2 separate regions of the Homo sapiens genome follow, and region 1 is linked to region 2. The links come from fine-mapping of genetic effects on gene expression. Tissue or cell type: cerebellar hemisphere. Region 2 holds a variant in brackets; the other region holds the start of a gene. All regions are shown on one strand. Distances are between the middles of the regions. Region 1 holds the start of SYCE1L (synaptonemal complex central element protein 1 like). Region 2 has its middle 31 kb from the start of SYCE1L.

What was found. PIP is the estimated chance that this variant, and not a neighbour inherited with it, causes the effect. A credible set is the group of variants that fine-mapping cannot tell apart.
Region 1: SYCE1L starts here. The variant in region 2 is the best candidate, but not a certain one, in a credible set for the expression of SYCE1L in cerebellar hemisphere (GTEx, PIP 0.75).

Annotation. Positions count from the first base shown.
Region 1 is chr16:77,196,183-77,201,564 of GRCh38, reverse strand. SYCE1L (synaptonemal complex central element protein 1 like) reads right to left here and starts at 2,157. Exons shown (of 11, transcript NM_001129979.3): 1 at 2,053-2,157. The coding sequence starts at 2,113. It overlaps MON1B (MON1 vesicular trafficking associated B), which reads right to left. Exons shown (of 6, transcript NM_014940.4): 6 at 1-3,457. The coding sequence ends at 3,257. RefSeq lists an enhancer at 4,336-4,505.
Region 2 is chr16:77,227,610-77,232,991 of GRCh38, reverse strand. No RefSeq gene overlaps it. Among named protein-coding and RNA genes, the nearest start is that of SYCE1L, 31 kb to the right of the region's middle. RefSeq lists a cis regulatory region at 2,236 and an enhancer at 2,152-2,321. The variant C/A (reference allele first, on the strand shown) is at 2,672.

The sequences.
Region 1 (5,382 bases), 31 kb after region 2:
TAAAAATACTCTGCCGACTGCCTCTAGCAAAGCCTTTACTTTGAGTCAGCTCTCTTCCCTGAGGCAGGAAAAGGCCTGTTTCTCTACAAGGTCGTCAATACCAGATACTATGCTTCCCTTTATAAAGCCGATTTGATGGGCTAGAAATGGCAACTTGATACATCCTTCAATTTTTCCTTTGCTGGTGAAGTTAGTCATAACTTTAATTTTGAGGAATTTGAAAGGTTGATACTAAAATTTTTTTTTTAATTGCAGTGGCAGCTGCATTACACAGTTAATAAATGAGATCTATTTGCATCTGTCTTATTTCCGTCTGTCTTTTGTTGAATGCTGGCACTTAGTATGTGCCTCTAATCTAAAAGAGCTCTCTGCTCTTGAAGTTATTTCATTGGTCACACATTAAAAAATTACTGAGCACTTACTTTACACCAAGCAGGCATTGTTTTAGGTGCAGGGGAGCGAGAGGTAAACAGTCTCTGTTCTCATGGAGCTCACATCCTAGGTCAGGCAATAAGCAATAATCATTACTTTGATGTCTGTATGGGTAGGTCTGGCAGGATGCAGTCTAATGTGTTTGTTAATACAGTGGTTTAAAGAGTGTGCAGAAAGGGGTGTTCGAGATAGATAAAAGTGGGGCAGAAAGGTGACAACAGTTAAAGCATACTGATAGGTACACATGGGCTTTGTTTAAAGCTATTTTCTCTACGTTGGTACACTTTGAATATTTCTATAACAAAAAAATGCTAGTGGCATACAAATGCATGACTGCCTTGGGAGATTTTTTTCTTTTTGTTTTTTCTTTTTTTTTTTTTTTTTTTGCTCACTCTGTCTTCCGCGCTGGAGTGCAGTGGCGCAATGTCAGCTCACGATAACCTCTGCCTCCCGGGTTCAAGCAATTCCCCTGCCTCAGCCTCCCCAGTAGCTGGGACTACAGGCGCCCGCCACCACACCCGGACAATTTTTGTATTTTTAGTAGAGACGAGGTTTCGCCATGCTGGCCAGGCTGGTCTCAAACTCCTGACCTCAGGTGACCCACCCGCCTCGGCCTTCCAAAGTGCTGGGATTACAGGCATAAGCCACCAAGCCCGGCCAAGGGAGAATTTTTTTTCTTTTGAGACGGAGTCTCACTCTGTCACCCAGGCTGGAGTGCAGTGACATGATCTCGGCTCACTGCAACCTCCGCCTCTCGGGTTCAAGTGATTCTCCTGCCTCAGCTTCCTGAGTAGCTGCGATTACAGGCCCACACCACCGCGCCCGGCTGATTAGTGTGTGTATATATATATATATATACACATATATATATATATACACATATACATATATATATATATACACACACATACATACATACATATAAATACACATACACACATATGTATATGTATATATAGTTTTTTAGTAGAGATGGTGTTTCACCATGTTGGTCAGGCTGGCCTCGAACTCCTAACCTCGTGATCCGCCCGCCTCGGCCTCCCAAAGTGCTGGGATTACAGGCGTGAGCCTCCGTGCCCGGCCTGAGATTTTTTTTTCTTTTGGATGGAATACAATTTCCAATAGTGTCTAGGCCGACACCCCTCCACCCTCCTTTGCCTGTCATTCAAGTCAATACCCTGGAGAAAAGAGGCTGTGGGGGAGGCCATGTTCGATTAGGAGGTTTAAGAGTCCATCAAAGTGTCATATGTGTTAGGTGTGAAATGGCGACACTGGGAATTACTGTTAATAAGGGGTGGCTGCAGCACGGTGATTGTTATGAGAACATCCCCACCGCCCCACTTTTGTTTGAAGACTTTCGTACTGAACTACATGTTGTTTACTTTCAACAACGTATACACTACAGTTGACAAAAGTTAATCTCGGTGATAAGAATATGCCTGTTAATTTATCTCCACTGTGCTGAACGGTTAAAAAATTGTTTTTCTTCAATAACAAAAGGCTTAACATTTTATTTAAAAAAATTAGAATATCATTATTTCATTATTGTAATGGGACGAATCCTCCCTCCTTTCTGCCCTGGTTGGAGAGAAAGGAGTGCAGCCCACTTGCCCTCACTACCTTCAGCCTCCTCAGTAGCTTCTGGCGCCTCCACATTCAGAGGTTTCAGCTTCCCCGCCATTTTCCAACGCGGGGCCTGCGCGCGAGCCTCGCTTGATGACTGGTTAAAAAAGAAACCACGTGAGGGTGAAAGGCTTTTCAGCACGCATGCGTGCAACCCGCGGTTACGCCAGCGGTTAAATCAGGAGTCAGCTCTGGGCAGGCGCAGAACACACTGCGGCCCTGATTGCCAGCACACATGCTACAACCTTGAGGCTGTAACTCCACAAACAAGGGCAGAACTAGGGTAATGGCCAGTTGGGGAGTGAGGGTAGTGTGCACACACACAAAACCCTAGGGAGGTCTCTCCTGCTTTAGGCTGCTTGTCTTGTGCAGGTTGTCAAAGTCTGGGACAGACGTGCATGTGCTATGTGGTGGTACACAATAGTTCGAGTCTGTTTTCGTTTACAAATCCTCATCAAAGAGTTCATGAGAGAGGGTTACTTATCTCTGTTTCACAGATGAGTAAAACGAGGCTTAGAGGCTAAGTGCATCTCCTATGTAAAAATGCTGGATTTCAGCCACTGTGTGCAGTCAGGTGCTGTGTCCTGGGTTCCACAGGTGGACACTGAAGGCCACCTTCTCATTAATGTTAGCAGCAGCCAGCATTGAGGGCGGGTCATTTCTGGCAGGGTAAAGATGAAAAAAGTACAAGAAGGGCAAAGGAATATCCTTGTGGGTCTTACTTTTAGGCCTTTTATGTAGTTTTTTTCTTTAAAATACCCTCAGGCCAGTCCCAAGCATAGCCTGGCCCTGAAGTGCCAATTCCAGCACCCCCGTGGGCCACCCTAGACACCTTGGCCAGATCTGGACACTCAGGGCTGAGATTCAACTAGGAGGCAGACCACGGAAGCAAGTTTGGAGGGGACAGTCCCTGACAGAGGCTAGAGCATCATCCAAGTGGAGGAGATGAGACAGAGGGAAGGGAGAGGGAGGCCTAAGGATTTCCCCAGAGGGGGAGGTGCATGACTGGGCAGGGAAAGCAGCCTGCTCGCCTGGCGGCTGCCACCATCTCTCTCATCGGTGGGCCCTCAGACCTTGCCCCATTGCTTAGGGAGACAATGACTGGCCACAGACACACCCCCACACACATTTCCAGGGTAGACAGAAGGTAAAAAACAAAGGTGGTTGCTCCCAGCACTGCCTGGTCTGGGAGCTCCAACTATCAGAGTCCAGTGAACAAGCCATTATGGGCAGCTTGGTCCGTAGAGGTGGCTGGTGGTGTGGAGTACTTGGGTGGGTAACGAATGAAGAGCCGGTCCTCCTCTTTCTTCACCCAGCGCAGGAGTTTGGTCACTACCAAGATTGCACCTGCCTTGGTCACCAGAGGGCTGAGGCAGGTATAGAGCTCGAATTTGGAGGTCACCTGGGGGTTTCGGAGGAGACAGAGTCAGATGGGCCAGAGCTGGCTATGGACAATCCTGCCTACCCCAGTGCAGCTGCATGTCTGCCTCCTGCAACCTGGAACATGTACCTGGCAGCACCTCCTACCAGGTGCTGCCTAGATACTGGGCTAAGGTAGGTAAGCTGATATTGTGCAATTTCAGCTGGACCTAGTGACTTCAACTGGATGATGCTGGTTGTGTGTGTGGGTACTCTCTAGACCTGTTTGCTCATTGGGAACTGGGGAAAACAGTAACAATGTTTAATATTCTGTCAGTAACCTATTGTGTACAAGGTCCTGCTCTAAGCTCCTACAACTATGTTTTCATCATCTACAGCCAGGGAATAATATAAAGAGGAACTCAATTTATGCCTCATACCACATGGAGAGGCCTGACCCCACAAGGTCACTAGCGCCTTTCCTGTGCCACCTCCCAGAGCGCTCCCCTTCACTCCCTCTGCTCCGGCCACTCTACCCTTTCCTTGCTATTCCTCAAACATAGCCAGGCTTGGTTCCACCTCATAGCATATCAGTCCTTTCCCTCTGCCAGGTGTACTCTTCCTCCTAATATCCACGTAGCTCAATACCTCCCTACTCCACTCAGATGCCATCTGCTCAGGGAGGCCACCCTGATCACTTGGTTTAAAATTCTGCTCCTAACATATATTTTGTTTGTTTTTGTTTTTTTGTTTTTGACGTAGAGTCTTACTCTGTTACCCAGGCTGGAGTGCAGTGGCACGGTCTCGGCTCACTGCAACCTCCGCCTGCCAGGTTCAAGCGATTCTCCTGCCTCAGCCTCCCGAGTAGCTGGGATACAAGCGCATGCCACCACATCCAGCTAATTTTTTGTATTTTTAGTAGAGATGGGGTTCCACCCTGTTGGCCAGGCTGGTCTCGAACTCCTGACCTTGTGACTCGCCGCCCACTCCCCCCAACTCCCACCCCGACTCAGCCTCCCAAAGTGCTGGGATTATAGGCGTGAGGCACCGTGTCTGGCCCATATCTTGGTTTTAAAATTCCAATCTCTACTAAAAGGTATAAGGGCTCCATGGAAAAATGGCTGAGTTGAGGACTGGAATAGAGAAAGTCAAGTAAGATGTGCTCACATAGTGAAGGGGACGTGTCAGAGACACAGGGATCAGCCTGGCTAAATCAGGGTACCCACCGGCTAAATCAGAGGCAATCTGAACACCAAAATAAATGCTAGAGAAGGATTTTAGCTCACTGAATTAAAGAAAAATCCATGAGACAATATTGATAGAAAATTAAAAATTCAATAAATAGGAGAAGGAAAAGTTATTCCTTTTTGTTTTTGAAATGGAGTCTTACTCTGTCGCCCAGGCTGGAGTGCAGTGGCGCGATCTTGGCTCACGGCAACCTCCACCTCCCAGGTTCAAGCGATTCTCCTGCCTCAGCCTTATGAATAGCTGGGACTACAGGTGCGCACCACCACGCCCAGCTAATTTTTGTATTTTTAGTAGAGACGGGGTTTTGCCATGTTTGCCAGGCTGGTCTCGAACTCCTGACCTCAAGTGATCAGCCTGCCTCAGCCTCCCAAAGTGCTGGGATTACAGGCGTGAGCCATCACGTCCGGCCCCATGTTACTCTTTATAGTAAAATCCCAGCCAATAAATGTAGAAAGAATGATGGAGTTAGGAAAACCACCATCTGACCAGGCGTGGTTTTCACCACGCCCTTTATAACTCTTTATAAATATAAATATAAAAACTCTTTATATTGTTTTTGCAGCTTCTAAGTCTAAAGTTATTTGAAAATGAAAGTTAAAAAAATTTAAAAACAAAATTCTTAGCCTAGGACAATACCTGATCCACAGCAGTCACGCAATAAATTAATAAATATGCATTACATGGCAGGTGCCATTTCTGATGAGGCCTCCTTCACTGGCC
Region 2 (5,382 bases):
GCCTTGGCCTCCCAAAGTGCTGGGATTACAGGCGTGAGCCACCGTGCCCGGCCTTACGTATACTTTTTAATGAAGCTATGTATTTTCATTTCTCTTGGGTAAATACCACGGAGGGGAATTTCTGAGTCATGGTAAATATGTGTTTAAATTTAGAAGAAACTACCCGTTTTTCAAAGTGTTTGCACCACTTTGTGCTTCTACCAGCGATGTTTGAGTGTTCCGGTTATTTTACAACCTCCCCACAATGTGTATTAATATTTTTACACATTAGTGAGCCTGTAATGGTATCTCTTTGTGTCTTTTAACATTTTTTATTATAATAACATCTATTTGCTTATAAAAGAAAGATGTACTTAGTGTATTTCAAAAACACAGAGAAGTAGAAAAAAGGAAAAAAGTAGCAATTGTCATTATTTCATAACTATAGCACTCTAGGAGGCTAAGACGGGCAGATCACCTGAGGTGAGGAGTTTGAGACCAGCTTGCCCAACATGGTGAAGCCCCGTCTCTACTAAAGACACAAAAAATTAGCCAGGCTTGGTGACGGGTGCCTGTAATCCCAGCTACTCGGGAGGCTGAGGCAGGAGAATCACTTCAACCTGGGAGGGAGAGGTTACAGTGAGCCAAGATGGCACCACCATACTCCAGCCTGGGTGACAAGAGTGAAACTCCATCTGGAAAAAAAAAAAATAGTTTATTTCCTTTTCATTATTTTGCTGTTATTTTTACATATTTATAATTCTGCATAAGCAGTCTTGATTCTTGCTGTTTATATTTTAAAGAATTCTCATTTTTGAAATTTATTCTTTCAAGAGTTTTTTATATATTATAGATATTAAATCTTTATCCATAATATATGTAACATATTTTTGAACATTTATGGTATTTCTTTCCATGCAAATTTTTTTATGTAGTCAAAGTTATCACCTCTGGGTTTTGAGTCATAGCCAGAAAGCCTTTTCCTACATCAGAATAAAGAGAAATTCACCCGTGTTTCCATCTAGCACTTGTATGCTTTCATATTATTACATTAGATCCTTTATTTGCTTGTTCTTGTGGTGGATGGTGAGACATGGGCCTAATTTTAACTTTTTCCAAATAATGATTTAGGTATGGAGCTATTCAGATTTTCTATTTCCTCCTGCATCAGTTTAAGGGATTTGCATATTTCAAGAAATTTGTCCATCTCATCTAAATGTTTTAATTTGCTCTCCGAAGTCATTTAGCTCACAAACACACACACTTTTATTGTTCTTTTAATGTCTATAAGACCTATAATGACACAATGGGAAAAGACCATACCCGAATGACTGATGCTTATGCAATAACATTAAGCAGAGGGCCTGCCACTAAGCACGTGAGTGATTACATTTTATTTTTAAATTTCATAATCTTCAGATGCCTGCAAGTGAATTGAGCAAAATTACATTTGACGACATGACTGTTGGGAATGATAGCACCATGTAGTGCTGTTGATAGAGGGAGATGATTTTTTAAAAATCATGGTGAGTTGGTTAGATGCTCCAAAGATGTTCTCCTCTTACAGCAATTACTCAGTAACTTGTTATACTTATTATTGAGATAATATGAAAATTAATAAGGTATAACCTCATTTCTTAGAATGTAAGCTCTCAGCCAGCACACGAAGGTGTATAACATCAATGATCATACTTCATCTAGACATGGTATAAGTAGTTTGATGATGAAACACAGAGGAAACAGAGGTTGCTCTCAGAGAGGTCAAGGAAGGCTATGTGATAAAGGGGCACTTAAAAATGAATAGCTTCTGGTGTTTGAAGATAAAATACAATCAGAGTAAACACCATGCAGGGAGAAAAGTCATATTCGAAAAGAAATCTTGCCTTGCATGAGTTGCGGGTGGACAGGGAGGGGTCCAGAATGGTGAGAGGTAGTAGTGGGATGTATGGCTGGAAAGGTAGGTTCACATAAGACCATTAGAGAGGGACTTGCATTCTGGAATAAAGTTTTCGGATTTGACCCTGTAGTTCATGGGAAACCAGAGAAGTAAAGAGCTATAAGTGAATTAGTTCTGACTACAATGTGACTGACAAATGGAAATGAACAAGGCTAGAGGCAGAGTGGGAAATGAAGTTCTCCCGTAGCCATGTAAGTGGCAATGCCAATCTGAGCTAGGATATTGGCGCTCCAGAAAACACAAAGATGGACGTGAGAACACAGCCGGCAGATATGAGGAAATAAGCAATAGGAATTTAACACAGTATTATAAGTTCTATTTCAAAATTTCAAAAATACTTGCCTTTGCAATGCAAACTGAAAGAGCCACAATAAAAATATCAATTTTCTTCACAGCAGGACACCTGGGCAATGTCCGGAATGAATGAGCTTCAGTGAACCATTCTAATGGCAACCCTAGTTCAGCAAAATGAACAAAGGACTGTGAAGGGTGATCGGAAGCCAGTAATTCCTGGATCCTTTCATGGAAAAGGGCCTTTGGAATTTTAAAAGTGACATATCAGGCCAGGCGCAGTGGCTCACGCCTGTAATCCCAGCACTTTGGGAGGCCGAGGCGGGCAGATCCCCTGAGGTCGGGAGTTCGAGACCAGCCTGACCACCATGGAGAAACCCTGTCCCTACTAAAAAAAAAAAAAAAAAAAAAAAAAAAAAATTAGCCATGCATGGTGGCACAAGC[C/A]TGTAATCCCAGCTATTCCAGAGGCTGAGGCAGGAGAATTGCTTGAACCTGGGAGGTGGAGGTTGCGGTGAGCCGAGATTGTGCCACTGCACTCCAGCCTGAGCAACAAGAGTGAAATTCTGTCTCAAAGAAAAGAAAACAAAAGTGACATATCAGAGCTAAAGAGCCATCAATTTAATTTAAAAATTTGAAATGGATGATGTGGATTTGTTAGAGAAGTCTCGCCGTGGTCTAGCTCGTGAATAATTTTATAGCATGGAGGTCGTTAGTATATTTTGGTAATTGTTTTTCAGCTTCATTTTTGTAGAAACCAACTATTCAAGGGCCCTCAGGCTTAAAGGGAATTAAAATAGGGTATAAGGTAAAGGTCATTACTCTGTAAAGCTATAGCTTCCATTGACTCAAATGGAAAATGTCATTCCCCTAAAGACAGTCAGAGGACTCTCATATGATATAGTGGAAGGTATATAGATTTTGGATCCAGGTGGGCCTCCTTTGACTTATTTGAGCTGTTTTTTGACCTTGAACAAAACACAGAATCTCTCAGAAATTAGGTTTCCTCCCCCATCTATTAAAAAAAAAGGGGGGAAAAGACTGGGCGTGGTGGCTCATGCCAGTAATCCTAGCACTTTAGGAGGCCAAGGCAGGGTGATTACCTGAGGTCAGGAGTTCGAGACCAGTCTGGCCAACCTGGTGAAACCCCATCTCTACTAAAAATACAAAAATTAGCCAGGCGTGATGGTGTGCACCTGTAATCCCAGCTACTCAGGAGGCTGAAGCAGGAGAATTGCTTGAATCCAGGAGGCGGATGTGCAGTGAGCCGAGATCACGCCACTGCACTCCAGCCTGGGCAACAAGAACAAAACTCTGTTTCAAAAAAAAGGGTGGTGGGGAAATGGCAAACAATGCACACAATTCTTGGTAGAATTAAATAATGTGAAACAACATCAGTCCAAGTCACATCATAAAACTATTTCATGCTTATAATTGTACCAAAAAAATTTTATAAGTCCCTATAGTATCTGTGCAAGCCTCATTTTCATTTGTTTCTTTCACTGTGTGGTTGCCAATCAGGCTTTTCTTTCTCTCAAATATACAAATATCCTTTCTGCCTAATGCTGTTAATTCTGTTTAGAATTACCCCGTCTCCCATATACCCACCTCCTTTAGTCTTTAGGTCTCAGATTAAATGTCACCATGTTCAGAGGATCTTACTGATTTCTCTAAATTAGACTAGACTCCTGTGATCTCACTGGTAGTGCCCTGCAGTTCTTCAAAACCCTTCTCATAAAGTCATCACATCATTCTTTATGTAATTATTTGCTGATGGTCTTTCTTCCCTGTTAGCTCATTGAGGGCTAGAACAGAATCCTTCCTCATTACAGTAGTTCTAGTAGTGCCTAGTGCACTCACTGCCACGTTGCTGGTGGTTAAGTATTTGTTGAATGAAAGAATAAATGAATGAGTACAGTTCAGTAGCCAGACCTCTTATTTATTTGAACAATTGAAACGGAAGACAAGCCACATGGGAAGATGCTGAGCTGAGATTTTGCAGCTGACTGCTGGAGCTGACTCTGAAATGGAGATCAGCATTCTGAATGTTGATTAGGGACTGATCTTGGGATCAACTCCCATGGAAGAGAAAGAAAGGGAAAGAAAGGAAGCAGGATTGAGCAGAGGGAGAAATTTCAATGGAAGCATTAGCCACCCTCATGGAGAGTTTTAAGATGGGTTGGCCATTCCAAGCCACCCCATGTTCAGCCACGAGGGTCAGGCCTTCATGACCCGTGGGCTTTTTTACACTTCTAAGCCAAATGGTTATTGCATGTGGCCTCCCCCAAGAAGAGGCATAACTTTAATGGAGTTGACCCTTGCTGAGGGGGTTCTTGAAGGGGACTGACACTGAGGGCAGCTTTCCAGCAGCAGCAGTACTGCTAGCAGCTGCAGGAATAAGCCCTCTGTTCCCAAAGTGGGATCCAGGTGGTGCAGTGCAACATTCACCCTGACTGACAGCATTTCGGTACAGATGTTCTCTATCAGGTATCCAGGGGGGCTTGACTTGGCATTGGGTTTGGTAGCAGGGACTTCAAGCTCTCTCTCCCACACTGGCTGCTGGTGACTTTAGCCAGAGACCGTAAAAAGTACCCATTCATGAAATATACTTTTGTGGCTTCTATCTGGGTTACAACCCATGAGGAAGCAACAACAATGCAGAGCTGGAAGGGAACAGAGTTCAGAATAAAGCGTGGCATGGTTGTGAAGATCAATAGACTTGAGTTTAAATGCAGTATTAGCTATGAGAACTACAGAAGGCTGCAAAACTTCTCAGAGCCTCAGCCCCCTCATGGGCAAGAGGATGACTCAAAGTGTTAGTAAGAGTCTGTAACACAGCAGGTACTTTCCATATATGAATTCCCTTTCTACACTCCCCCCCGCCCAACACACACATGAACTTCAATCAGGCCTTTACCTTAACATCCCAACCATCATCCATACTGGCTCTGGCACGCTCGTTACCTGCTGCTTTCCCTGTTGGATTGCCTCTGGTTATGGAGCTTGCCCCATCCAACGTGGCTGCTGATTCTACTGCTGGACAGTGGTATCTGTTAGCAAGTCCTCATTTGCCTCTCTGGTTCCTTTATCCCATGATATATGCTCAGATATACAAAGATGATATTTAGTACCCAGGTATCTCTTCTTCAGAATAAATA